4 linked regions of the Homo sapiens genome follow. The protein of the gene in region 1 interacts with the protein of each later gene in a pairwise test. Each region holds a gene or a part of one and is shown on either strand. Other genes may lie near its edges. The genes, in order: MIEF1, MAL2, PRR4 and ATP5PF.

The links.
Region 2: the proteins of MIEF1 (region 1) and MAL2 interact in binary tests that used the Homo sapiens proteins (3 or more experiments, as listed by UniProt).
Region 3: the proteins of MIEF1 (region 1) and PRR4 interact in binary tests that used the Homo sapiens proteins (3 or more experiments, as listed by UniProt).
Region 4: the proteins of MIEF1 (region 1) and ATP5PF interact in binary tests that used the Homo sapiens proteins (3 or more experiments, as listed by UniProt).

The regions. Positions count from the first base shown.
Region 1 is NC_000022.11:39,505,290-39,512,422, reverse strand, and holds part of MIEF1 (mitochondrial dynamics protein MIEF1), read right to left. Parts: intron 3,002-7,133; exon of another isoform or gene 2,852-3,001; intron 1,136-2,851; 5' UTR 1,129-1,135; coding exon 985-1,128; intron 575-984; coding exon 397-574; intron 192-396; coding exon 1-191. UniProt on the Homo sapiens protein: Mitochondrial outer membrane protein which regulates mitochondrial fission/fusion dynamics.
Region 2 is NC_000008.11:119,212,765-119,220,032, reverse strand, and holds part of MAL2 (protein MAL2), read right to left. Parts: intron 5,411-7,268; exon of another isoform or gene 4,406-5,410; intron 1-4,405. UniProt on the Homo sapiens protein: Member of the machinery of polarized transport. Required for the indirect transcytotic route at the step of the egress of the transcytosing cargo from perinuclear endosomes in order for it to travel to the apical surface via a raft-dependent pathway.
Region 3 is NC_000012.12:10,844,808-10,852,747, forward strand, and holds PRR4 (proline-rich protein 4 isoform 2 precursor), read right to left. Parts: upstream 4,669-7,940; 5' UTR 4,631-4,668; coding exon 4,567-4,630; intron 3,601-4,566; coding exon 3,565-3,600; intron 2,561-3,564; coding exon 2,256-2,560; coding exon of another isoform or gene 2,238-2,255; intron 1,144-2,237; coding exon of another isoform or gene 1,137-1,143; 3' UTR 1,042-1,136; downstream 1-1,041.
Region 4 is NC_000021.9:25,724,637-25,731,904, reverse strand, and holds part of ATP5PF (ATP synthase peripheral stalk subunit F6, mitochondrial isoform a precursor), read left to right. Parts: intron 1-2,103; coding exon of another isoform or gene 2,104-2,110; coding exon 2,111-2,274; intron 2,275-6,554; coding exon 6,555-6,679; intron 6,680-7,227; coding exon 7,228-7,265; 3' UTR 7,266-7,268. UniProt on the Homo sapiens protein: Subunit F6, of the mitochondrial membrane ATP synthase complex (F(1)F(0) ATP synthase or Complex V) that produces ATP from ADP in the presence of a proton gradient across the membrane which is generated by electron transport complexes of the respiratory chain.

The sequences.
Region 1 (7,133 bases):
GAAGCTCCGGAGCTCGGCACATATGTCCACAGCAGCTTGCTTGGCCCGAGCCTGCTCTCCAGCAGGGATGGCTGCCCGGTTCCGGTAGTAAGTAAGAAGTTTCTCCTGCAGGGACATGCGGAGTCGTGACTTCTTCAAGTCTACCTGGCCCTTCCTGGCCACTGGCTTGGGCCGGGGCGGGCAGAATGTATCTGCCAAGGCAAGAGAGAGAGGCACGTGAGCTCTGCCCATGCCTGCTCAGTCCACAGCTGCCTCAGCCCCAGAAAGAAGGGCCTGGCATGGAGGGCAAGTGCTGGCACAGTGCCTGGCACAGATGTGCTCAGGAAACATCTGCTGAGTGCAGGAGTGGTACTGAAAGTCCAGAGAGGTCCCAGGAGGGGCAGCAGCCCTTCTCACCTGTGTCGAAGGTGGAGGAGTCTGTGGGAAGGGTCTGCAAGGACCGGCTCAGGCCCGTCTTCATGTCCCTGTTCAGCAGTCGTGGGGAGCCCATCCAGTTGGGTTCTTCCCAGCTCCTTTTCCCCGAATGGCTCAGGCGGGTGGGGCTGGTAGGGGCACTGATCGCCCGATCGTACATCTGAAATAGCAGAGAGGACACAGGACATAAACCTGCCCTCTTTCCCTATTTCCTTCCAATTTACTTCCTCCCCAGAAGCTCTGTCCTAGTAAGTTCTTTTAGTAATTTTGTTTTTATTTTAGATTATAGAATACTTTGCTCCACGCAGAAAATCTCAGGGAAGACTACATGATATAAGACATAGATAATCCACGTCATGACCCAGAGAAAACTGTTTGTAATATCTGGTATGTTTCTTTCTAGATGCATGTAATGACGATCACTCTATACATACTTTTGAAACCTGTTTTTTTCACTTATCATTGCGATCATTTCCTCCTAGAACGCTTCGACATTTTCTTTCTATAAAACATTACATCTTATGACCATACCACTACATTCCACCCCCAGCCCTGGCTGCATGCACTTACCCGCTTAACTGCCAGCGTGGCGATGCCCAGCATGGCCGCTCCACCCACCCCCAGCACCAGCCGGGCATTGGAGAGCACAAAGTCAATGGCCGTGCCAATGCCATTGTCATCCTTCTTGCCTTTGCGCTCACCAGCGCCTGCCATTGCTCATCTGAGAATGAAGACAGAACACGGCCATAAGTACTGGGACCCCAAGAACCTCCCTCCCCTAACAAGCCAAACCCCAACAAGTACAGGGTACTCTGTGAGTTCCAGCAACCCAAATCTTCTTGCCTCCAGCACTGCATGCTTTAGGGTCTGGAGGGAGCTACAATGTCCCATGATAGATCAGGATGCAAGGAGGAGGGGCTGATCTTGGGTATTGTAGGAAAACTTTCCCCAAGCTAGTGAGATTAAGAAAGCATTAAGCTCAGTGTCAGTCCTTTTTTGTATTACAATGAAGTACCCCACCATGCAAAACAGCCCTCTCTCTGCCCCTTTACAATGTTAAAATGCAGGTCTCTACCCCTTCACAATGTTATAATGCAGGTCTCTACCCCTTCACAGGGGTTATAATGCAGGTCTCTACCCCTTCACAGGGGTTATAAAGCAGGTCTCTACCCCTTCACAGGGGTTATAATGCAGGTCTCTACCCCTTCACAGGGGTTATAATGCAGGTCTCTCTACCCCTTCACAGAGGTTATAAAGCAGGTCTCTCTACCCCATCACAGGGGTTATAATGCAGGTCATTTCTTCGTCCTTTGGCCACTACTTTGTGGAAGGTTAGATCTGAGCGGGACCTTGGAGCTCATCTAATGCCATCACATCACCTCACACAGAGGTTCTCAACATAGGGAGGTGATGTGTCAGGTCTCAGAGAAAAGAAATGGTACAGGCGCAGTGGCTCATGCCTATAATCCTAGCTACCCGGGAGGCTGAGGTGGGAAGATCGCTTGTGGCCAGAAGTTCAAGACCAACCTGAGCAACATGGCAAGACCCCCATCTCCAAAAGTAAAAGATAAAAATAAATTGAGCATGGTGGCACATGCCTGTAGTCCTATCTACTTAGGAGGCTGAGGCAGGAGGAATGCTTGAGCCCAGGAGTTTGAGGCTACAGTGAGCTATGATCACGCCACTGCACTCTAGCCTCAGTGACAGAGTGAGACCCCATCTCTTAAAAATAAAAATAAAAAAACAAAATGGGCCGGGCACGGTGACTCACGCCTGTAATCCCAGCACTTTGGGAGGCCGAGGCAGGCGGATCACCTGAGATCAGGAGTTCAAGACAAGCCTGGCCAACATGGAGAAACCCCGTCACTACTAAAAATATAAAATTAGCCAGATGTGACAGCGCATGCCTGTAATCCCAGCTTCTCAGGAGGCTGAGACAGGAGAATCCCTTGAACCCGGAAGGCGGAGGTTGCAGTGAGCCGAGATCACACGATTGCACTCTAGCCTGGGTAACAAGAGCTAAACTCCGTCTCAAAAACGAAAACAAAACGACACAGTCATCTCCAGAACTCAGGACTCCCCACTCCTTGTATGACGCTTTTTCTACTGTACCATGCTCACCCTTACCCAAATCAAATCGGCCCTTATTCTATCTACTTTCTGCAAACAAAACACAAAACAACATGTACCAAACATCCTGCACACGGAACTGAAACTACACGTCCATATGTGAGAAAGGTCCCTCCATGGACCCTCCTACTTGACAAATGCTTTGTTTCTTGAGAGAAGTGCGCAGCGGGGACTATAAAAGCTTAGGTGAGACTGGTATACCGGGAGATAAAAAACACAAAGGACACTGCAGACTCGACTGCTAACTGGAAAACAAAACACCCATCTGCTCGATTACACCTGGAAGAGGAACTAAAAATGTGTTCACCTGAAAGAAGTACTTGGGCACCACAGCGAAGAGGCTGGCCTCCAGTGCAGTGCTCAGGCCAGTGCTGCTCCCGACTACAGTGGAGTCTTCCTGACTGCAGCAGCAGCAGTCCCCAGATAAGCCCATTCCTGTGGAGTTAGAACCCTGGGCCTGAGCCGGATAAAGGATGACAGTGTGATTCAGATCGGAATACCACTCAGCATGCTGCCACTCTCCTCTATAATATCCCGTGTCCTTCACACCAGGAATGACATAAGGGAAAACAAAGTCGGATACCATTTAGCGTCCCAGAATGGGAGGACATCAAGAGACAGGATCAGCCGGGCGCGGTGGCTCACACCTGTAATCCCAGCACTTTGGGAGGCCAAGGTGGGTGGATCACGAGGTCGGAAGTTCAAGACCAGCCTGGCCAACATAGTGAAACCCCATCTCTACTAAAAATACAAAAAATTAGCCAGGCATGATGGTGCATGCCTGTAATCCCAGCTACTCGGGAGGCCAAGGCAGGAGAATCACCATTGCACTCCAGCCTGGGTGACAGAGCAAGACTCCGTCTTGAAGAAAAAAAAAAAAGGATCACTGAGGATTATCTTCCATGTAAAATAACATTCCTTCTAATACCGTGTTACAAGTGGATATTTCTAGCTTCCACATCTTACGCTCCTGCCTCTACCTCCCTGAAAAACAAAGAAATATTTCTGACTCTATTATTCCAGTAATTGAGTTAACTAAGAGTCACTGTCAAGCCCAAAAATATTTTTTTCCCTAACTAGAGTTCACACCTTGGGGGTACTTTCCTTTTCTCTACCATTTACAGTCAATAGAGGCTTCAGGTTTAGGGACATGAAAGACTATTTCGCCAAACCGAGTACATTCCCACCTCAAATGCACAGAGCAAAGCCAGGGAGAAGAGATAACGTTTGTATTTACAGGTGGAATCAGGGAAGAACAGCAGACACCCTCTCTCCAGTGGCCACTGAGATAGAGACGGGACAAACCAAACTTAGCAGAGGCAAGATAACCCAATCAGGAGAAAAGCAGAACACTATACATTTCCCCACACATAACAATGTCTCTTGTTTTAACTCTTTACTGAAATATTTACAATAGGGAGAGCCACTGGACACATGTGCCCTCTAAATGATCCTTGAGTGTGATGCAGCAGGGCCAGAAGGGCACCTCCTCACTCAGGGCAGAAGCAGCCTCCCTGGACCATTTTAGTCCTTGGTGCCCTTCTGATGACTGGTGAGAGCAAGGTGGTGCTACAGATGACAGAACAGAGCGTGGGTTTTAGAGTCAGAAATCCTGAGATACAGAACTTGCCTTGAGCCCTGACTTATTAGCTGGGTGACCTCAAATGAGTTACTTAACACCTCAGCTACGAAAAGGGGATAATGGTCCCCGCGTGGGACCAAATCACAGGGTTGTAGTGAGGAAAAACCATTCACTGCAATCCTGTATGTGAACGGTATAAACTGTATTGCAGTGGATGGTCTATAAACTGTAAAAGTGCTCCACAAATGAGTTCTCCTCTAGTCTTTTAAGATTTCCATCCACAGGACAAAGGTCAGCTTCCAGAAGTCAGTCAGCAACCCAGACTGTCCTCTGAGTGACAGTGCACCTTTTGAGACTGCTCTAAAACGGCCTTGAAAATTCGCAGTGATGCCATCTTGGACTTGAGATCAAAACTATTTTTTCTTTTTTTTTGAGACTGAGTATCACTCTGTCACCCAGGCTGGAGTATAGTGGGGCAATCCCGGCTCACTGCAACCTCCACCTCCCAGGTTCAAGTGATTCTCCTGCTTCAGCCTCCCTAGTAGCTGGGATTACAGGCATGAGCCACCACACCCTGCTAATTTTTTGTATTTTCAGTAGAGACAGGGTTTCACCATGTTGGCCAGGCTGGTCTCGAACTCCTGACTTCAGGTGATCTGCCCACCCTGGCCTCTCAAAGTGCTGGGATTACAGGCGTGAGCCAACAGCTGAGATCAAAACTATTAAGTTGGGCCAGCTTGTTAAGCCTTTTCGGCCGGGTACGGTGGCTCACGCCTGTAATCCCAACACTTTGGGAGGCCAAGGTGGGCAGATCACGAGGTCAGGAGATCGAGACCATCCTGGCTAACACGGTGAACCTCTGTCTCTACTAAAAACACAAAAAATTAGCCAGGTGTGGTGGCAGGCGCCTGTAGTCCCAGCTACTCGGGAGGCCGAGGCAGGAGAATCGCTTGAAGTCGGGAGGCAGAGGTTGCAGTGAGCCAAGATTGCACCCACTGCACTCCAGCCTGGGTGACAGAGCAAGACTCCATCTCAAGAAAAAAAGGCTTTTCCTACTGTAGTGCAATAGGCACCCCCCGCCCACCATCCAAGGACGGACTGACATCACAGACCTGGTGACCTGGAACAGAAGACGGCATCCACAAGCTCAACAGACAGACACGGACCTTACTTGAAAAGTTAATTCAACTTGTTCCAGTTTAAACTGCTTCTCCATGACACGCTCTCCACTCAGGTTCTGCTGCATAAGCTTACAGCCTACTAGCAGGTAAGAACTCCACCTCCAATCGGGACTGTCATGAAGGAACCCCATTGCTTAATGGGTACAGAGTTTCAGATGTGCCAGATGAAAAGGGTTCTGGGGCTCTGTTACCCAACAATGTGAATATACTTACTACTACTGAACTGTACACTTTAAAATGGTTAAGATGGTTAAAATAAAAAACAAAGAAGGAACACAGACCTGGTGGGCAGAACTAGGGATGGAGAATTTCAGCTCTGCCAATATTTCAGGCAAGTTATTTAACCTGTCTCGCTAGATACAAAAATGGGAACAGAAATGCTCATCACCCTAATATAGTTAAGGATGATGAATAATGGAGGCCTTGCGGCTTCCTAGGATGACAGCACAGAAGTGTGAAAGTTCCAACTTATTTTAATTGAAAAAGCCATAGGCCTTTTTATAAACCTATCTTGCTTGAGTATGTACGAGACTAGGTAGCAGATATTGAGTGTGTATTATGTGCTGGCAATTTTACACTTATTATTAATTCCCTCAATCCTCACAACAACAATCCCATGAGATCAGTAATATTATCCCAAATTTAAAGGATGAAGAAACTGAGTAGTTTCTGTAACTGACCCAAGGTCACTGTGTCAGTAAAGTATGTGACCAAGATTTGAACCCTGAGATCACGCGGTGCGGAGAACTAATCTACAGGGGTCCTAGGTACTTGCTCCACACCTTGTTCCCATCTCCACTCCATTAACCCCCAGACCATATGCTTCTGGGGGACATTTGGGCTCATTCACTGCTGCATCCCCAGGGTGTGCAGTGTTTGATGCATAGGGAGTATATGTTGTGGGAATGAAGTATTAACTCTACGGCGTTTTGTTTCTTGGTTTTTTTGAGGGGGTAGTGATAGCAGCGTGTAGCCCAACTCACAGCCAAAATATATTAGGAACACAAAGATTTCAAGGAACGCCCTAATTCCCTCCTAGATCCGCTAGCCAACCCTCCCTGTGCAGACAGGCTCCCATGGGCATCACCCCACCCCTGGCCCTGTACTGCCAAAGGCAGATATGCCAATCCTAAGTGGCTGAGAAGAACCAAAAGTCATTACATAAGGCTCTCTTCCTACTTTCCCTCCCCCAGTTAAAAGCAGCACCCTCCACCCAGCTGGCAGGCCTTACACCCAGTTACTCTTCATCTTTCTCTCTCCTCCTCCTGCCTCAGCCAACTGATCACCAAGTCCCACTGCTGTACACACTGTGTTTATATGTGGCCACCCCCACCCCTCGGTCCCTCAATCTGATCTGGCTACATCCACTGCCTCTAGTATCTCTCATCAATTTATTCTTCACACTGCCACTGGTATGCTCCCTCTACGATACAAATGTGGCTATGTCATTCCTCTGTTTACAGAGCTGTGATGGTCCCCACATAAGAAGATATACATTACAATCTCAACTTGGAGTCAACGTCCTTCCAGACCAGGCCCAGCCTCAACTCTGGCTATTTGCCTTACAGGGGTACCATGCTGGCCACATCAGACTTAAGTTTCCAGACTACAAAGTGCAGTTTCTGGACAGGCAGAGCTGTTTGAACCTATAATCCCAAAGCTTTGGGAGGCAAGGGTGGGAGGATCGCTTGAGGCTAAGAGTTTGAAAGCAGCCTGGGCAACATAGCAAGACCGTCTCTACAAAAAAAATAAATAAATAAAAAATTAGCTGAGCACATTGGTACATGCCTGGCGTCCCAGCTACTCAGGAGGCTGAGAAGGGAGGA
Region 2 (7,268 bases), on another chromosome or scaffold:
GTATTAGGGGGAGAAAAAAAATCCACAGTTCCAAGACAAAGATCTTTCACATCAGAGTGGCCTGTTACTTGCATGCCGTGAATGTCATTCCCTCCCTATGTGTACTTGAGATTCTCCCACTCACATCTAATCTTGAGCACATCATTTACAACATTTTTCCTGAGATCCACCCCTGCTCAGTTATGCCTCCCTCCTCTGGGCAACCTCCCTACTGGGCTTTGTTACATCAGTGAGATACACTGTAATTAAATCCCTTTGGCTCTCCATCTGCACTACCAGGCCTTCTTGGCAGCATACTGCTTTATATGTCTCTGCATCCCAAGCCATTTATTAATCTACACAGTAATCCTTTCCTAACCATCAGTCAGGTACTATGCTAGATTTGGCAGCACAAAACCTTAGGCTACATACCTGCCCTGAAGACACCTCAAGCAAGTGAGAATCAATCTCTCTCTCTCTCTCTCTGTCTCTCTCTCTCACACACACACACACACACACACACACACACACACCCAGGGAGAGTGATAGAGCACGCTCTTAAATTATTTGCTTAGTAAACAAGCTAGTGCTCATGTGAGAACAGTTGGAGCTCCAAATATTAAAAATCAATACTCATCTGTACATTGCATTTCAGTATCTAGATATCCAAATTACTCCACAAGTCACTGAAAGTTAAAAACACAAGTTTTAATTCAAGCTTCAAGAAAAGGCCCAATCATATAATTTGTTACTACTTTGAAGAAACATTTTTGAAAGCATAAATGATCACTTGATCAATGATAATCAAATCACCAGTCTAAAAAAATGTATAGTTGTGGTGTATACCTCAACTCCTAAAGTCAAATAAAAAATTAACAATTGATCCAGAAAGTGTTATGAAATAAATCTAATGAATATCAGTGCATCTTAAACATTTAACCACCACCTTATCAGTGCCTATAAAAGAAAAAACTTGTTCCTAATATTATTTACCTTTACATACTATTAAATAAATATCTGAAGGCGATATAAGTATGTCTTCAGTGGATCAATCTTTCCTTTTTTTCCACTTTCTTCTTTCTGGTAGTCTTTTCTTACTCTCCCACAAAGAATAACCTACATAACTTTAAATACAGTTTAAGAAATATACATTAAGTATCTCTTCTGAGTTATTTCCTGAGAACCTATGTGCAAATATAAAGGATAATAAAAAGCAATTGGCCACTGTTTGTTAGGGACAGGCAGAGCCAAATAGATAAACATAATGAGTTAGGGATGATGATACATTCACACCTCTAAAGAGGAGGCTATATGATCCTTTGGAATTCAACACAGCATTTACTAAACCCAGACTGGACCTCAAACAGGCCAGCCCCGAACCTACTGCTAGGTACTATAGAAGAACACTCAAGAAAAAACAAAAAAGGCAAGGTTCCATCTCCAGGAGCTTGAAATAAGGAAGAAATAGACACTATTAAACTGATTCAGGAGCAGATTGCGGTGGGTGCTATAAAAAGAGCTCAACACAGTGTGTTCTGAGAGGCTGGGAGGGGAGAGGAGAGAAGAAATATAATGGGAAGAATCTGGAAAGGTAGGCAGGGGAGGCAGGCTTCAGAGTAAGCTTTCAAGACAGACCAAGGCTTTGACAGCAGAGGCTATACTGTAAAATAGTATAGACTAACCGTTCTTATCGTACTCAAAATTACAGCCCTTCAAACACCTCAAAGGCTTGGAAGGGAAACTAAATGCTGCATGAACAGGAGTCAGATTCACCTCCTCACTTGTGGGGTATGTGCTGCATGGAAAGGGGAGAGGGAAGGAGTGTAGGAATGCCCCCTCTCTCTCACTCAAGTAAATACATATGATACATCCCTAGAGCTGAGATTCTGTGAAATCCAGGCTCGCTTTGGAAGAGAGAGGATGGGCCAGAGAACATAATTGAGCCCACTTTGGAGGGCCACCATCCTCATTTTGAGACTGTCATACTGGTGTATGGATCACTCTGGCCTTGACACAGTTATTATTCCCTACTTTGTGATTTCCTTTTGACAAAAGCTACTTTTCTTCTTGAGCTTCCCAACTTGGCTCCAACTTAAACTTGGCTCCAGTTTTTTTAAGTTAAAAAACTGAACTTAAAAAATTGAGATGACCAATGCTCAGTATATTCACTTCCTCTAATTCCGGGCATTAGTGAGCTTAGAGTGTTTGCAAAACGGTGTAATTATCAGCATTCCTGTTCAGTAGAGACGACTCTGGAGGTGGCCATATTTTTAGAAGTAAAAAGCAGAACACAAAAATGGTTAAATCTGACAGAGAACAGATGATAAATACAGTAGCAACTGCAGAGTACACACTGTGAAGAAAGGTATTCGGAACTATTATATGTTTCGCCCACGTTATTCTCATCGTCTTGGATCTGAATCCATATTCTGACCCCTTCCCTGCCACTGCCTTCCACTGCTTTCTAGTGTTCTAAAAAATCCAATAATTATGTATAAAATAGCCAAAGGCACCTCAATTTGAAATTTCTTTAAGAAACTAAGTCAGTGCTTATGACGTCAAACCTCAAGCTCTAACAAAAAGACTACCTTTGCTTCCAGGCAATACAAAGGTAAAAACCTCCTAGGAGTAGGTATCAGCATCTCCCGGTGACTCAGTCACCTTTTATCTTCTTAACCCAACTTTAGGTGTACTGGGTACATACCAGAAGTACTCAAATATATTCTGAGTTGCAGTTATTAAATTGCTACACATTCCTAAAACAACTGATCTTCTTTCTGGTTTAACACATGTTTGTTATGTTTGCTTGGTCTCTGCAGACCAGAAAGGTATGACTTGGCTGAAACCCTACCATAAGAAAACCACGGAAGTATTTATCCACAAATCACACTAAACTGAATCCTCAGGGTTTGATGTGAAGACATGTTTTCACTAGAAACTGTGGAATGGGAAAAATACATAGTCCCACGGGAAAACATGCTCTTGAGCAAGTAGCAACTCTTGCAATTCTGGGTGCATGAATTACAGATTCTTAACTCATCTCCTGTTTGGACGGTCTTATGTTCCCAAAGGGTTCCTTTTGCAAATGCCCTTTTTCTTTTCAAATGTCACTTATTTCCTAATTACCTGCTTTTAAACATACCCTCTGACAGCTAAAAATTTTTTCAAACCAATTTGACACCTCCATCTTAGTATACCCACAAAGTAAACCGGCTAATTTCTACTGTGACCTATTTTCAATTAATGTTTGGAATGAGAACAGGAAAAGGTAAGTGAATTTGAAAGGATAAAGGCTGGCTAAACTACCCATAAGGGAAAACACTATTTAGAACTTTCCGTATTAAGCTCCCTCCTTCTAATTCTATTATCTATATATTGGATAATTCATTATTCTACTGCAGTGAGAATGAACACCCAGCAAACATAGAGGAAAAGCAAAAAAATATTTGTCTTCCAGTCTGGCTTGTAGAGTTAGAGTAAGAAGTTGAAGCTAATGGTGATAGCAGAAATAGTACTTAACATTTACTGAGCTCTTATGTTATAAGCACCGTTATAAGGGTTTTATTTGTGCCAATTTAATCCTCACAGACCTTGAGAGACAACATTATTATTCCTACTTTATAGGTAAGTTAATTGAGGTACAAATCCATTCATAACTTGTTCCTAGTTATATAGTTAATAAGTGTTAGACCTGAAATTTGAACTTGGCAATTGGCTTCCAGAACTTATGATTTTAACATTCTGCTATTCTGCCCCTCTCATGGTTTAGTGTTCATTCTAAAGCAGGGTTTCTACCCATATTCCATATGATTTCCTAAAATCATATAAAATTGGGTGGACAAGTACATATGCATTTTTCTGAGGACACAGTCCACACCTTTCATCAGAATCACAAAGGGGTATGTGGCCCCCCCACCCAGAAGTTCAGAACACTTTATCTACTTGTAACCCCTTCTATTTTAATGGATGTTTACTTATGGGGTGCTGCACAGGAAACATCATGGTTATAGAAGTGTTCAGTATATTCAGAAATTTATCAGCTAGAAAAAAAAAGATTATCTACAATTAGCTATATTTTACATACAATTCGCATTTTGAAAGATTTCCTTAAACTAGAAACATACTTAGCCAACACATACAATATAACTGGTAGATGTATTTACAAAGCAGCCCACACAAGTATGGATTCATTCACAATGCGACTGTAGATCACTGGTACCACTACAAGGCATACTGCTGCCCCCCTCCCCAAGCTCATCATCTTCCCTGTAATGCTTCTTTTCCTACCACCCTCTCTTTGCATTCCAGCCTCTACCCCTCATCCCCTGAGCATAGAGAAATGATCACACTTGACCATGTTTCTGCCTAGCATGCTGCCAGTAAAAATTCTGCTGCATAACTAAACTCCAGTTACCATGTTTTCCAGAAAGACTTCCCTGGCCAGGTGCCATCCCTCGGTGCTTCCACGGTTACTGACGCGTGTATTCTCCACAGCAATTACAACTGGATCAAAATCATGGATCTACATGCCCATTTCACCCACTAGACTGTGACGTCAGAGTCGGTGACATTGCCTTCAACATCTCCGTATGCTCATTACCCAGGGTGGTGCTTTCTACAGAAGGTCCTCAATCCATCCTCCTTGAAATGAATGGAAACCAACCGGCATGTGTAATGAATGGTTCCAAAAGAGAATGCTCTAGGAGTGCAGCTTGGGATGCTAGGAACACACTCCGGTCTGGAGCCCAGCTCACTCCCTGGTTCATGGTGGATGTCCAAAAATAGGCATGAAAACGAGTGAAGCGAGAATATGTACTTCTCAATTCTCAAGTTATTATTGGTGACACCCACCACCTAGTACCAGATCTCAGGAGGCTGAGATGGAAAGTTATGGGAAACTTTGTACCTCTTGCCAGTTGAATTCATGACACCCAATTTTAAATCTTTTTTCGGCCCCAAATTTGCCCACATGACCTATTTCTATTGTAACTGCCACTGGAACTTTTGACCAGGGTAAATCTTGTGCCTTCTTCCAGTGCCTCCTGCTCCCCTCATCAGTCCCCATCTGTCCTCTAACCATGCTGACTTCTGTCCAAACTGCTTCTGGACTGGCCCTGGCATAGACCTGCATTAGAGATGCAAGGCAGCAAGGTGTTTATTTATTTAGTTAGTTAGGAAAACAGAACAAATTCTGGGATGTAATGAGAAATGACATACACATAAGAGGCTTATGACCAAAATACGTTAATACTCATTGCAAAAGAAGTTCTACTTTTTAGCTTTACATTTGAAGGCTTTAAAAATATGTCTGAGAGTGCTATAGAGAGTTATACTTTCTTCCTCCCCATGTGACCTAAACCTCCAATTCAGCTGCTTAAATAGCTGACACCGACCCTAAAATGGAAAGCTCATATTACAGAGGAGAAATATGTTCTGGTTCTTTTTATTCTTCTTTATAATAATTCCTCTCGATTTTGAAAATTCCCTTTTCATGTTTGCAGGTAACTAGTTATCACTTTTAGTTTAAAGCTGTTCCTGCGTGCCAATGCCCTGATATTGGCCAGACCCGTATAAATCACTGCCTCTTTCCTTTCTTTTTACCTTCCTCCTTCTCATAGCTATTATACAGAAGTTGAGATTGTTATATATGTTGTCTATAAAAGGATATGGTACTCTTATATAAAATAGAACACTTAGGAAATTCAAGTTAAAGTGCAGAAACCTGGAGAAGAATTATGGCAGTTTACATGTTGGGCAAGATTTAAGAGGGCATCTACTCCCAAGCTGCCCTTCTCCACTCCAGCCAATGTCTCCAGACTATTTTCACATACTGCTCAGTTTGTACTATAGAACAAACAAGTAGCATTTGTTAAGTACTGCATGTGCATGATACTGGGTATGCCAACCTGGTTCCTGTCCTTTGTCATTACAGGGTCATTTCTATTCAGCCATATCACTGCAAATACACCATGTCCACAGCTCCTACCACCACGTACAACATTTCTATCAGGCTCTACAAAACAAATCTCTTCTCTATGACTTTTTCCTTTGGAGCTCAAGGTGAATCTTTTCAGCTACTTGGTTTAAAGTTTTCCATATTTCAGTTCTTCGTATTTTTTTTTAAAGGACTGCCAGTCGGAGCAAATGATTGTTGATAATAATCTCTGGCAGGGGCATTGGTTTATTTTCCCTTATGAAACTTTAAAGGTTATTTATTTATTCATTTATTATTTTGGGGATGTAGTTTCGCTCTTATTTCCCAGGCTGGAGGGTGATGGTGCGATCTTGGCTCACTGCAACTCTGCCTCCCAGGTTCAAGCAATTCTCCTGCCACGGCCTCCCAAGTAGCTGGGATTACAGTCATGTGCCACCACACCTGGCTAATTTTGTATTTTTAGTAGAGATGGGGGTTTCACCATGTTGGTCAGGCTGGTCTTGAACTCCTGACCTCAGGTGATCCACCTGCTTCAGCCTCCCAAAGTGCTAGGATTACAGGCATGAGCCACTGCACCCGGCCTAAAGATTCTTTTAATGTGGATGAAGATTTTTAATCCAGAGGCAAAGGAAAAAAAATACCTACAGTTTTAAAACCCATTTAGGGGACAACTATGTCCATGGACAGCTCCCTCTTGCACACTGCAAATAAGCAATGTCCCTTCACAGTCAACATTTTCCAGGCAATAAACTCTATACATCAGAACATATACATGTTACTAGTCCAAAGTCAAAGCTCTCAGTTGAAAATAACCTGAAGTCCCTTTCATAGATTTATCTGCATGACTGAACCTGCCTCCCCTAAAGTCCCTCCCTCACAATCATCCTTTCATTAACATTTGTTTTTCTGGCATAATTCCTCTGAGTTACATCTTATATTTAAGTTTAGTCTAGGTATCACTTTGGGGCAAGTCAAACTTTACATACTTAATTGACTTCCCAAACCTCAAACCTCTCTCTCTCCTTCTCCATCCTTCTTTCATTGGTTCTATTTCAGGTTCTTTTCATCCCTTATCTAAACTATTGCAATAAGCCCCCTAACTGCTCTTCCTGCCTTCAGTCCCTTTGTTTTACAACCAAACTTCATCACTCAAAGGTTTCTAAGACACAAGCTGGATCAAGTTTCTCTCTGTCCTTCACAGCTTTCCATCAGACAATAAATCCAATGCCTTGGCCTAGCATTTCTCAGCAAACCAGAACCTGAGTCCTACCTGCTGTTTTTCCTTTTTCTGCCACGGCCCACCAAAATCTCACAACTGACAGAACGTTCTTGCCATTGTCCTTCTTGTCTCTGT
Region 3 (7,940 bases), on another chromosome or scaffold:
CAAATCCCAAAGTCTTAACTCATTCCAGCATCCACTTTAAAATCTAAATCCAAAGTCTTATCTAAATATCATCAAAATCAGATATGGTGTGGCCAATTTTCTAATATTGAACCATCTTTAACATCCTCATCCTCTTTCAACGTGGTTTATTATTCTTTTAGCATACTGTTCGTTTGTTTATGTACTATTGAATAGTTTCCCTAACAGAGTATCCTTGCTGTCCTATATATTTTGTTTAATGAAACTCAGAATGAATTCAGAAACTTGTTGTTTCCTGTACTTAAAAAATCTAAAAAAGAATTATGTGCTTTTTAATGATAAAGATTAGATATTAAAATTTTCTGTATTCAGCGACATTGGAGGTGATAATGAGAGGTAGCTGGAGACAGTTACATATCAAATTCTTTTGCTTCTTAGGGTTATTTTCTATTCAACTTTGCCTCAGCAACTTGAGTTAAATTTGGTAGTCTATATTATCTGACAATAATACTGATATTGCTGGAATTTTTACAATCAGAACAGAGTTTTACTCAAATTTCTTGCCCTTTAAAGTACATTATGCTGCACCCTTTATGAAATCCACTCAAGTTTTTAAAAAGAATGGTGAACGACTTAGGGAGGAAGAGAGCTGAGCAATGAAAAAAGAGGAGAAAAGAGCATAGTGAGTTTTATAGAGAAGAGATCTAGAACTACATTTATGCCCCTAGAAACCAGGATTAATAGTTTTGGAAATTTTAAGAATTCCCCAGCACTTGCAACTCCCTCTCATTTGTTATATATTCCTTGTTTTCCTAGAGTTACAAGAATATCAATGAAAGATGTAAAAATAATTTTAAGAATTTGCATTTGTGCTATGCAATCTAGGACAGAAGGGGAACAATGGAACTCTTTCTCCTTGGCAGCTGGCTTTATTAAGATAAAGGAGGAGGGAAGCCTGCTGGAAGCATCAATGAGCAAGAGTCCCAGATATTCTTAGATTGTATTAATGGCCCTCAAATTCTAGACTCAGAAACACCCACAAAGAGAAGCAACAATCAGAAATTGCATGCTATTAATATTTTATTGGTATACTGAAGAAAGAGTTATGACCACATTATTTCAATGTCATGGCTTTCTGAAGGAAGTTATCTTCTTATTTATTTTCTGAAACAAAAAAAAAAACCAAGGAAATTTATACACAACATACAACATGGCAAAACTTATCTAATTCCTTGATGATATTACTGAAGTAAATTATTGCTTTCAAGATTAAGAAAACAGATTTTTTTATGGTGTTTATGTTTTGGTTACTGTTCAAAACATTCAAGGTTATATTTATGAAAATGACTGCAACTTGAACCTGTAGTAGTGAAAAACTAATACAAGCCTACATATCAATTAACAGTGGTTGACTGAGGAAATCATGGTACAGTCACACAAGAGAATAGTATACAATTGTAACAACAAAAGAAAAATGTACAAATAAATCACCAAGAAGATCTATAGGTCTCCGTGAAATGATAAAGTTGTCTAAGACATGTATTATTTGAAATAAGCAAATACAGATCTGCATATAAAATAATATGTCATTTGTGGGAAAAATAATGACGTATGCTTATATACATATAAATATTTCCAGGAGGATGTTCAAAAAATTAAGGGTGGTGACTTTTGGTGAAGGGTGTGGGTAAGTAGGATAAGGCGTCACTTTAAGATTTAGCTTCATACCATTCTGTTCAGTTAGATTTTTTTTTCCTTGAGCATGTACTAATTTCAAAATAAGTATTTTAAAAATTAAATAAGATATAAGAGCATCAAGTTCAAGTATCATTTAGCAGGGACACTGGACCTGAGAGGCTAGTGTGAGGCAGGACTGAGCAAAGAGTCCTCTGGCGGAAACCTGAGAGAAACCTGAGATGGAGAGTCCTTGGGTTTGAGAAGGCAGACTCAAAGACAGGAGGCAGAGCACCAAAGGGAGAGCACACCCCACTTCCTCATTACCAACTCATTTTAATGAGACAAGTCATCTTAAGAAAAAAGTTGGGGAGGTCAGTATTTCAAAAGATAAGAATTCTTTGAACCACTTGTTAAAAATACAAGGACTTGCAACCTTATCCAAGAATATCTGAATACAAATCTTTAGAAATGGGGTCCAGGATTATGTAATTTCAACATATTTCCAATTGATTTGTGAACACGATAAAGTTTGGGAATGGTAGCAGTTTGGGCATTTAATGGAGAATGAACTGGAATCATACCTGCCACTGAATTCTAGATTACCAGAGTGGTTGCTCCTGGGGATGTCTTGCTGGTCTGTCCCTCTGGAAGAATGATGATGCTTCCTGCAGGCTGACAGAAGGAAATCGGGGTAGAGAGAGTTGACGGTGTCCTCGTCGGGGTGGTCGTTGCTGATTTTGAAAAGGAGGTGGGGGAGGATGGCGGTGATGGCCTCCTGGTTTTGGTGGTCTCTGCTGAGGACCATCATCTTGGTTACCACTATCACCAGGGGGTCTAGGTAGGAGTCCTTCAGGAGGAGGTCTCTGGGGTCCCTGATCTGGTCTCTGACTTGAGTCCTCTACATCTGTGTGAGTAATTAATGGACAAGAATGCATGAGCTCAGTGAAGAAAAACTCTCCTCTCTTTATACTTCTCTCACCTTACCACACAGCCCTGTTCTCCCCAAACCTGCTGCTTGACTGTCAACTTCTTTTGTGCCCACTGTTTTTTTTTTCTTTTTATGCAGCTCTCAACTTAATCCATGTAAGAGTGATATGGAAAGTCTCATTTATTTGCTCCTGTGACAAGTATGTTTCCTTAAATGAAAAGAGGGGTTCTTGCATATCTTAGAGTTGCCAGAGGATGTCTCCAAGGACAGAAAAAAAAAAAAAAGCAAAAGCATTATAGCTTTCAGTTATGTTACTGGTTATTTTTTATTTTTATTTTTTGGTTGCTGTAATGACTTACAAACTGTGACTCCATCTCTGGGCACCTAAGCCCTATGTGGAAACTAGAGCTGATTTCCCAGGCTCCTGGAACCAAGTAGAGAAATACTAAGAGACAGAAGAGAAAGACAATGTGAAAGCCTGCACATGATCACTAAACAGCTGTGGCAACTATTTATCATCTGTAGTGACACAGCTGAGTGGGTCAACACAGAGAAAAGACATTCATGCAGTGATTTTTTTGTTTTGTTTTGTGTTACTCCCTGAAGCCACATAACCGTGCGGGGGAACACTGGGGGAAGAAAGAAGCAGTTAAGGATGGAGGAGTCAGAATGAGAACACTTCTCATTTGTTCATCATCTCTCAGCAGTCATTCCAGCCTGGGAAAAAAGCCTGCCCACTCCTATTGTCCTCAAAGCCAGGCATCTCTGTATTCAAGTTGGTGGCCTGGCTCATGGTCCCCAGAATCAAAGATGGGTAAGAATTGCCTATATATTTAGGGGCACTAATATTAATCAATGCCTGACCCCTCTTACCACCTCCTCCCAAAAAAATGATGAGAAGAAGACACTGAAGGAAACTAAAAAGAAATTCTAGTGGAAAAAGAAAGAAAAGAATTGGATTGAGGATCATTGGGATTTACCTGGTATGGTGAAAGTAAAGTCTTCATAGTTCACATCTAGGAAAAGAAGCACAGGATGAAGTGAACATTACCTCATAAATCTTTCAGGGCTCATAGTGGTCTATAGGGAAAGGGGTCTTCTGGCCACACCCTGTGCATCCCCTAAGTTACCTCATCAACCATGTTCTGTGAAGCTGCTGGAAGGGGAGGAAGATGTTAGGGGAGGCAGGATTGTTACTATCGCTGAGCATCAACCACGAATTCAATAGAAGAGTCCCTTTTTGTCATCCTTAGGATCCCTCAAACCCTAATGCTAATTTAGGCACACTTCTCTGGGTATTTTCATGTCATATTTTAGATCTTTACCTTCTTCCTTCTTTAAATATTTTGATCATATTCACAAGCTTGCCCAAGAGGAGCAACCAGGAGTAAATATTTGGATATAATCTTACACATGCTGCCTGCAACATATTGAAATTTTAAATGTGATTGGAAGAAAAATGGGAATTTGGGGACCTGATATTTCTATACCACTATGTAGAAAGACACAAATGTATTATCCAGTCCTCTATGTCTGACAGTACTCTGATGTTTGTTTATCTCTTTCATTGATTCTGCATCCCCTGTACAGCAAGGACACCATCATCGCTGTCCACTGAGATTACTGTAGCATCTTCATAGCTGGACTTCCCTGGATCAGTCTTGCATTCTCCACTGCATCCTTCACAGCACAGCCAGGTCTTTCTAAAAATACAAATCTTACTTTGTCATTCCTCTAATTGAAATTCTCTATTGGGTTCCAAGTGTATATCAAATAAAGTATAAGGCCTTGGCATGGAATGAGGGCACAACAGATGTCATCCTTGGAATGAGAGCTCCAAAGCCCTACCCTTCTTCTCAACCTCCTTCCTCCCCTCCTGCTCTTCCGCTGCAGTGGTGTAGGGTGAACCCCTGAGGCCCTAGAAGAGTCATGGCCCCTCATCCCACTCCCCATCTCCTTTTTTAAAAAAATAATTTTTTTACCATTATCTGTGCTCTGAGCTGAGCTCAGAGCCAGAAGGACCACTGAGAGCAGGACCAGCAGCATCTTGAAGGAGGCTCTGGAGTTGCTCCCAACTCTGCGTTGAGAGAAACATGGCAGCTCCCTTTATAAACATGAGCAGAACAATGGCACCTTTGAGCTCCATACTGGGTGGACCTCACCACCTGAAAGATTAGGTTTTGCTTTCCTCTCATAAAGTTGAATGCGTCTCTTATTACTTTTTGGGATTTTAGCCCAGCAGGATGTGGTGGTAGGATGTGGTTAGGTACAAACTGTGACTTGAGCATAGTTTCTGAAGAAACAGTATCCAAGCAATCAGCACAAATACTACAATTGAAGTTTGGTCATCATTTGATTTTCAATTGGGTTAGACAGTTAGTCTTTCCCCTTCATTGGTTGTCTGTGTGCACACGTGCTTACGTTTGTATATGTTTGTCAGCAGTGATCTTATAGCCAGAAGTGAAAATGATTAATATCTCTAGCTATTAGTGTAGCATAAATTCCATTTTTATAGCATATATACCTATATGGATGATATGTAGCTTAATTTCATAATAATATAGAGATCATTTCTGTTTAATGTTGAGTTGTGTGAGGACAACACACACTTGGGCACACGTGGATGACAGAAGTTTTACCCTCAGGCTACTCTGGCCCAAAGAGATTAAGATTCTCCTAATCTAGCATTAACCAGAGATACTTTATTGTTGTAGAACACAGGTATTAAAACATTCTATCTTTATTAATACCCTGGAGGTTAGTAAGGCAAAATTGGCCACAGAAAGCACCATTAGATTTCTGCATCAGAACAGTGTGAATACACAGTTCCTTGAACAAGCCATGCTATTTTATGTCCCTAAGACTTCTTCCATGATCTTTCTCTTTTCTAGAATGTTCTATATGATTCAGTTTAGGTCTTACTTCTTGTACCAAATATTTTAATCACACTGGTTATTGAGTGGACACAATAATACAATCTAATTAGATAGTATGATAGCCTGTTGAAAGCCTCAAGTATTACATTGATTTTCTATTTTTTAATTAGTTTCCATTCTATTTGCTTCTCAGATTGCCTTTACCAAAGATTATTTTCTCTGCAATATTCTTATACTCATTCTTCTTCACTCTTGTGCTGAACCTTACTTGTTGATATGTTATATTGTGAATCAATCCTCCCTATGTCTATGTTTTATATCTTACTGCTTTCTTCATGCGTTCTGGGAGAAATCTTTATTTGATTTTCTAAACAAGGTTCTGTACTTCTCTTTGCTTGCTTTCTTCTTTTTTGTTTTTAAAATTTGGCACCAAGGTTTTGTGTTTCTGAAAAGTTTGGTAGGGTCCTGAGTTGGTAGCTTAATCTTCACCTGCTGATTTTTCTGTCCTATCTAGTAGTTTTCTGCTTATATTTTCATGGAACCCCTAGATCAATCAGTATCACCAGCTGCCACTTTTCATTACAGGCATTGTATAGGTCTCGTATTATTGTTACATTTTTGTACAGGGCTGGTGATAATTTGAGGATAGCTTGGTTGGAAGTATGACAGGGTCGGGGGAATGTGACTGGAAATCTTAAAGACAGGCCTCTTGACCATTGTGGATAAGTGGATCCTGTGCTGTGCAGATGAAGGTCTGGTCTGGCAATTCTGAAGGGTTGGAGGTAATATTACAGGAAGATTTTCTAATCAATGGTGTTTGTTATGGATAACTTTACTTTGGCAAAGTGACCAAAAAATAAATATTTTCTCTGGCATAATTATGGACATATTTTGAAGGTGAAATATATTATGAGTTAGCAATTCTTCTCTATGTGGGAAGCAGAAGAGTTCTAGCTGTGCTTTAGGGTTTTATGGGTGAGAGAGAGTAGTTGTTTGGGCCTACAGACCCAGCTGTGTTACTAGGATTGCTGCCTCTGATTTCACCAGACACTGTTTAACATGGGAAGTGGAGATAAGTAGTTCTGCCTAGGTGGCTTATGGTAGACCATCAGGTAGGAAAGGAAGGTCAGCGAGAAGGAGCAGAGGGGCGTGCCATGCAGACATGATTCACTGTGTGGGTGGCTGAGGAAACTGCAGTCCTGGTGGAAGGCAGGCTTCTCCTTGGCTGGTGAGTGCAGGAAGACAACAGGTGATGCCTGCAAATATCACTCAGCTCAGACCCTTACCCTGACATTCTCCAGTGTAAGCAATGAGAGAAAGAGATTAATGTATCAGGAAATAATAAACATCAGCTATGATCTCACCACACACAACCACAACAGAGGTGACGGAGGAGCTGAAACAGACACTGTCAGTGAGTGAGGGTGGGGTCAAATCGAGAAGCAGGACTGCAGCAGGAGCTTAGGCACTTGTAGGTGAGTGGACACTCTCAGCAATCCACTTGCCTTTTACAACAGATGAAAACTTAACATACCCCTAATATAATTCTTGATTTCTACTTCCTAAAACCTGCTCTCCTTCATACTAATTTGTTATGGCTACCCTAAAAAAATGCCCCACAAGTGGCTTAAACAACAGAAATTTACTTTCTCATAGTTCTGGAGCTTGAAGTACAAGATTAAGGTGTCAACAGGTTTGGTGTCTTCTGAGGCCCTGTCTCCTTCACTTCTAGATGGCCGGTTCTTGCTGTATCTTCACATGGGGTTTTATCTGTAGACGTGCATCCCTGGTACCCCTCTGTGGTCTGTGCTAATGTTCTTTTCTTATGAGGACAGGTGTCAGATGGGATTAGCACCAACCCTATCAGCTTCATTTTAACCTAATCACCTCTTTAAAGGCCATGCTGCAAATAGAGTCACATTCAGTGGTATCGGGGGTAAGGGATTCAACATGAGAGTTTGGAGGGAACACAATTTAGCTGATAACACCTCACAATCTTTTCTCAGTTCATGACATTTGTTTCACTCAACCATTCAAAAACATAAGTGTCACTCTTGATTGTTTAGTCTCCTCCGTGTACTGCCCTTAGCAAATCCAATTGGTTCTACCTTCAAAAGATATCCCATATATGATCAGTTTCATAATCTCTATCAGAAGGTCCTGAGTCAAGCCATGATTCTCCCTCCTGGAGGACTTTCAACAGTCTCCAGCTGATCTTGGTGACATTCCTGCCCCTCACCACATCCCAAGCAGTTCTCCTTACAACAGCCAGAGTGATCTTTTAAAAATAGAATTTAGAACATCAGCAAGATGGCTGACTAGAGTTCCCTGGCACTCATTTCCCCACAAAAAGAAATCAAGAAAACAAACAATTTTATGTCAGCCAGTGTGATTTAAAAAGTATGCTGGAGACCACCAGGGGAACAGAAACACCTCTGTGAAGTACAGAAACTCAATATAGCATCCTGCCTCTGACATAC
Region 4 (7,268 bases), on another chromosome or scaffold:
CCATGTTTCCCAGGCTGGTCTTGAACTCCTGAGTTCAAACAATCCTCCCTCCTCGGCCTCCCAAAGTGCTGGGATTACAGGCATGAGCCACCTCGCCTGGCCTCTAAATACTTATATCTAATTTCTATATTACTTTAGACCAATAACATAGTTTGTATACTTCCACTAGTCCTATTATAACTTAGTAGAAGTCCGGTGTCAATGTGATGATGACAGTATTGCTATTAGGAAATTTGGGGAGGGCATGGGAAACATGTTAGCATATCAGATTTTCACTTGAAGATTCAGAAATTTTACCAGCCAGGGCAATATGGCAAGACCTCGTCTCTACAAAAAAAAAAAAAAAGTAAAAATTAGCCTGGTGTGATGGCACACAACTGTGCTCCCATCTACTTGGGAGGCTAAGGTGGGAGGATTGCATGAGTCCAGGAGGCTGAGGCTGTAGTGAGCCGTGTTCATTCTGGGCAACAGAGTGAGACCCTGTCTGAAAAAAAAAAAGATTGAGAAATTGTACCAGGCTGTGGTGCATTGTGAGCCTTTTGTCACCGTTCCAATATGGGGTTTGGCAAGCCCTGTCAGTTTATAGACTCGGCCTTAATCTGAGAAAAATGTATTCTACTAATTATTTATGGTCTCTTTTAATCATTTCCTTTTTTTTCTTTTTGAGACAGAGTCTTGCCCTGCATCCAGGCTGGAGTGCAGTGGTGTGATCTGGGCTCACTGCAGCCTCCGCCTCCTGAGTTCAAGTGATTCTCCTGCCTCAGCCTCCCAAATAACTGGGATTACAGGCACGCGCTAGCACGCCTGACTTATTTTTGTATGTTTAGTGGAGACAGGGTTTCACCATTTTGGGCAGGCTGGTCTCGAACCTCTGACCTCAAGTGATCCACCTGCCTCGGGCTGAAGTGCTGGGATTACACACATGAGCCACCGTGCCTGGCCCTCTTTATTCCTTTTCTTCTAGAATTCCTGTTTGTACCTATTTGTTGTAATTTGGATTATTTTTTGCATTTGATCTTTAAATCACTAAAGTAAATCTCAACAGGAATTGTCCTCTACTGAAATGTTTTAGTTAGAAAGTAATATATTTTAGCTTAAGGAAGTCTAGGGATTTGAAAGTCTTTAAGTCTTTTTTTTTTTTTTTTTTTTTTTTTTTTTTTTTTTTTTTGTGAGACGGAGTCTTGCTCTTGTTGCCCAGGCTGGAGTGCAATGGCACAATCTCGGCTCACTGCATCCTCTGCCTCCTGGGTTCAAGCAATTCTCCTGCCTCAGCCTCCTGAGTAGCTGGGATTACAGGCATGCGCCACCACGCCCAGCTAATTTTTGTATTTTTAATAGAGACAGGGTTTCTTTTTGTTGGTCAGGCTGGTCTCAAATTCCCAACCTCAGGTGATCCACCAGCCTCAGCCTCCCAAAGTGCTGGGATTACAGGCGTGAACCACTGCACCTGGCCATAAGTCCTTATTTTTAAAATTCAGACTTCCATCTCCTTCACCAATTTATTTCACTGATAAAGTTGGACTGCCGGATCCTCCCCACTGTCATGCACAGCTCATTTGGACTGGCTGCTGTTTTTCTTTGCTGGTTCTTCTGGACTTTGATTTAGTTGTTACAGTATTCTTAAATGGCTGGAATCCATTTGTAACAGGCAGAGCAGTTTCTCCCTCTGTGGGCCTGTGAAGTACACATTTTCAGGTTGTCATGCCCGGCTGAGGTATGGGAAACCTTGTACATTAGTTTGGGGGCCAGTGTACTTTTCCTGTTAGGAGCGGACAGTGTTGCAACAGTCTACCTCTACTGTTTTCTCTGATCCATGACTAAGTTCAAGGGGGAAGAAATACCTCACCTCACATTTTGTGCTCTAACCCTGATGAAGCTTCAGGCCTGAGTTTCTAACTGTTCCATTATCCCAGAGCCTTTTGGTTAAGACCTAAAAAACTTGCAATGGGGAATAAGGAGGAGAAGGGAACTGTGGTCAGGTATAGACTGAGATCTGATATGATGTAATTCTGTAGCAATTAGTAGAATTTGATTCTCATGATATATTTAGAGGTGATTTATAATAAGTATATTAACGTTTCTGCTGCTTGTTTTCTGTAACAGAATCAGCATGATTCTTCAGAGGCTCTTCAGGTTCTCCTCTGTCATTCGGTCAGCCGTCTCAGTCCATTTGCGGAGGAACATTGGTGTTACAGCAGTGGCATTTAATAAGGAACTTGATCCTATACAGAAACTCTTTGTGGACAAGATTAGAGAATACAAATCTAAGCGACAGTAAGTGAATAAATAACTACAGTGTAAATATAAATATTCAAAGTATGTAAGTTTCAAGGTGGTAATAAAAATGACTTGGTATTTGAAAGTATTAGACCTTCACTGAGCTCATCTCTGACATAGAGGTTCATTAGGTGCCCTCAAAAAAGAAGATAAGGATCTTGATTTTTTTAAGTCAGAAACTGTATCTTTATATGAGTTACAAGGGAAAATCCTACTAAATTTATTGCTGTTTAAAATACATTCTTACTGTCATGTCATGTATTATAAACCACATCAATTTATAGAAATACATAGGGTCTTGGAAATCATTTAGCAGCTAAGTTTGAAAAAAGTAACTCCCTTAGACATTGATTAGCCGAAGATCATAAAACTAATTGGGGAAAAATATATTATCAAAGTATATTTTAGCCTCAATTTAGTGGCCTTTCTGTGACATTGTAATTTGGGGGAAATGTATAAACACAGCTCTTTTTTTTAAAAGGCTATTTCCATAGTTACAGATCTCTGAGAATGTATATTAAAGGACAAAAGACTCTGAAATGACATAATGTAAGTCCAAGAAAAACAATTGTAGAACCATAGTTTTGGAAAGGAATGACCACCTTAGCTGTCATCAGGTCCAAACCCAAATCTTAGGAACAGTGAGGCGCACCAATTCATAGTTCCATTTTCTTTCATATAGTTGTCTACTGTGTGTAAAGCACTTGGCTATTAACCGTGATGGGCCACAGGGCATTTTTACAATATTCTTAAAGTCCGATAGGAGTAGAAAGCTTCTAAGCAAATAAATACAATATAAGGTAAAATGAGTTAGGTGCTAAGGTAGGGAAACGCTGGGTGCTTGGGGAGTTCATAGGAAAGAATACTCCTTTCCAGCTAGAGGCATTTTAGAGGCTTCTTGGAAGGCAGTGTTTGGGTACTCATCCCTCTTGAGAATCTCATGGACAACTGTGGATCATCTTCCCAGTTTAAAGAAAAAAACGTGAAGAATTTACTCACATCATTTTCCTTATAGCATGAAACAGTTCTCAAACCCACAGGAGGCCTTCAGTAGACCTGTACACCCAGGGGTTTACTCTAGGTTTTAAAGATCAGTGTATGAAGGTTGGACAGATAAATGAGGGTAAGAGGAGAGTATCTTTTAGGAGGAAAGAATGGTGTGAACTAAGGCATGAAAATGCCTTAGTTTGTGCTAGAAAGCACAAAATATATTTGGTGAATGGTATAATTCTATTTCCCTGGAGTATAGGGTATATGAAGAGTATAAGGATGGTATGGGGTTAGAATGAGGGATTATGGAAGGCCTTGATTGTAGACTGAGCAAGTAAGATATGTGGTAGGCATTTGTGAGAAATTACAGCTTTTTGAACATGACTGTGGGGATGGAAGATTACTCTGAATTAGGAGGATAATTTTAACCAGGGTATTGGAAGGATTGAAATGAGAAGAGAGCAAAGACAGACATGTTAGCAAAATGTAACCTAAGCATTAGTTGATGAGAACCTTGACTTTATAGCAGTGGTAATGTAAAAGTGACAGAGTCAAGACATTGAAACACTGATGCCTGGTTTTGGTGAGCTGCTGGAGAGGAAGAAGAGGGAACAATAAAAGAAAACTGACTTTTGAGGCGAGGTAACTAACAAAGGTGTTACCATTGCCAAAACTGAGGAGGAGAAATAGTGAAGGGATTAAAATGTAGTAAGTTACTCTGTGCTTTGTAGACATGGTAATGAAACTCTGACAACAACCCTATAGATGTTACCCCAATTTTATATATGAGAAAACCAAGGCTGAAAGTTAGAATTTGCCAAAAATCATACTGTTAAGTAACCAGATGTGCAGGACTCGTCAGGGAATTTTGAGTGTCTTCTGTCCAAATGTGGTGTTATATTAGAGTATTGATGCTGTTTGCATCATTTTAACTGTCTTTAAAAGCCTATCTAGTAAGAAGTGAATTCTTAGGTGTACCCTATATCTAAGGAGTCTTGTTTGTGGGTCATTCATTCGTTTGTGCAAACAAACACATGGAGAGTTCTGAGGGTAGACCCTGGGCTGGCATCCAGCACTGCCACTAATTAGCTCTATGACCTTGGGCAGGTTTAACTTCTGTAGGACAGTTTTCTCATATGTAAAAGGAGGATGATGGTAGTACTTACCCATTTCATAGGATATTATAAAAATTAAATTATTCAATACATTAGCATGCCTAGTATTTGCTAGTGAAATGAACAAGTATCTTCTGAGTGACTGCTTTGTCCTAGGCATCATGTGAGAGCCTAGGAATATAGTAATAAGCAAGATAAGCAGCAAGACTTACATTCAGTTGAGGAGGTAGATGATTTCTGGCCTCTTTTTATCACAAGAGTGCATATTAAAGTTAAAATAGCCATCATCCATCTGTAACCAGTATTAGAGTATCTAGTTGAAGGATCTATTTAGAACCGCAGTGTCCATTTTGGTTGCCGTTATCCATGAGACTATTCAAATTCTAATTACAATTAAGTGTATTTATAAATTCAGTTTCTCATTTTCTCATTCATGTTAGCTATATTTCTAGTGCTCAATAGCCAGATATGGCTAGTGGCTGCCACACTGGACAGCACAGACAGAGAGCGTTTCTAACATCACAAAAAGGTCTATTGGACAGTGCTAATCTAAAAGAAAATTGGGTCTCTAACAAGAAATATTGATAACAAGTTCTTAAATTGGAGCCACCTATGTATTTTTTGTGCATGTTCTTTAACTTAAATAAGACTGTATACTTTGATCATAGGCATGTGTAAAAATGTTATTACCCTTGAAGGAATTTTCATGTGTACATTTTTTTACATTTAGAATATTGTTCATTGCTAGGTAGGCAGTAGTATTTATGACAAAAACAGAAGAATTTCTTCAAAGAATTAATGAGACCCAGTTGGCCCTGCTGCTGGTCCATAATGCTATATTTATTTTCCCAAAATGCACAAGTCTAATTTTGTCATTTTATTGCTTGGCAAATAAAATACAAACTCCCAGGCTTAACATTCCGGGCCTCCCATGATCTGGGGTCTGCTGGTTTTTCCATCTAGACTCCTTAGCATTCCCCACATACAGCCAATCCCTTACCACCTCTATGTCTTTGCTTTTTCCATCTTAGAAGGTCTCAAAATAAACCCTGGCCCCAGATGCCTGATGTTTCTCAAATGCCACCTTTTTAAAATGAAATTTTCCCTGATTAGCTTAGCAAAAGTAATCTCTTCCTCAACTTGAATAGCTTTTTGTTAAATCATGTCTTTGAAGCTCATCACATCACTCCTTTACAGCATAAATGTTTGTAAACATGTAATTTTTTTCTTCGAAATTGCAAAATCTCTGAGGGTAGGAAATAATTTGCTTCTTTAATAGGACCCCTATGGTAGAAACTTAAAAGTCTAAGGTCTTTAAAAGCCATTTAGTGATGGCTGACTTAAAGCAGATGATATTAGTAGATAATAATTGAGTACTCACTGTGTGCCAGGCACTGTGCTTAGAGGTACGTGTGCATTTACACCCTCGTTTGGTAGAACCTTCATATTTAGTTGTGGAAACTAAAATTTAGAGTGCTCTGTGCCTTACTCAGGTTTACGCAGTTGCTGAATAGTTGAACTTACACTCAAACAGGACCAGTCTTTGACTCCAGAGCCTGTAGACTTAACGATACACCTTTTGCAACTTAGACCCTGAGAAATTCTGACTTAGTGAGTGTCCGTGATTCTGAGAAACCTTGAATGTTAGAGATTGGTTTGAGGATACCTCATTTATGTGAAACCTCATCGTAATAAAATAGTTTGAATTGAAATTGAAGTAGAAATACTTATTTTCTTTCTGAAGTCTTTTCTTTGACTACATGAATGCTTTAAAAAGGTCTATTGGCCGGGTGTGGTGGCTCACGCCTGTAATCCGAGCACTTATGGGAGGCCGAGGCGGGCGGATCATGAGGTCAGGAGATCGAGACCATCCTGGTTAACATGGTGAAACCCCCTCTCTACTAAAAATACAAAAATTAGCTGGGCATGGTGGCGTGTGCCTGTAATCCCAGTTACTTGGGAGGCTGAGACAGGAGAATCGCTTGAACCAGGGAGTCGGAGGTTGCAGAGAGCCAAGATCATGCTACCGCACTCCAGCCTGGCGACCAAGCAAGACTCCGTCTCAAAAAAGAAAAAAAAAAAAAGATCTGTTGGAATGTGGTGGTGAAAAGTAATTTTGTTTTTGTAAGCTAGTACACAAAATTAATTTTTGTTTGCTCATTTACTTAACAGGACATCTGGAGGACCTGTTGATGCTAGTTCAGAGTATCAGCAAGAGCTGGAGAGGGAGCTTTTTAAGCTCAAGCAAATGTTTGGTAATGCAGACATGAATACATTTCCCACCTTCAAATTTGAAGGTACGTCTTATAAATCACAGATTCATTCTTGTGGGGGATAAGTGAAGAATATTTACACTTACCTGGATTTTTAGAGAACTGAATGACAGTGTTGACATGTGAATTTATTAGGACCATGACGTGTGCCTGAGAAGCTGCCGGCTAAATGTTTGCTGTTAGAATAAGAGCAGTATAGGAGATCACATAACATAGTGATTAAATGGTGGGGATCTGAAATCGAACTGCCCAATCTTGAATCCTTATAATCACTTTCAGCTGTGTAATCTTGAGTAATTAACTGGTGCATGTCTCCTCATCTGACATTTGGGGAGAATTATAGTATCTTCTGCATATGTAGTTAAATGACATAATATATGCAAAGTCAATTAATGGAATGCATGGCTCATAGAAAGTGTTGCATAAATGTTTAGCTATATTTCTATGTAAATGTTTACAAACAGTGTTTACTAAAAAAATCAGAAAATTGATGAGTTAAATCTTGAGCATTCTACATAATCCATTTTATTGCAATTTGGCTAAGCTTGACCCTTTTTTCCCCCTCTTCTTAGATCCCAAATTTGAAGTCATCGAAAAACCCCAGGCCTGAAGA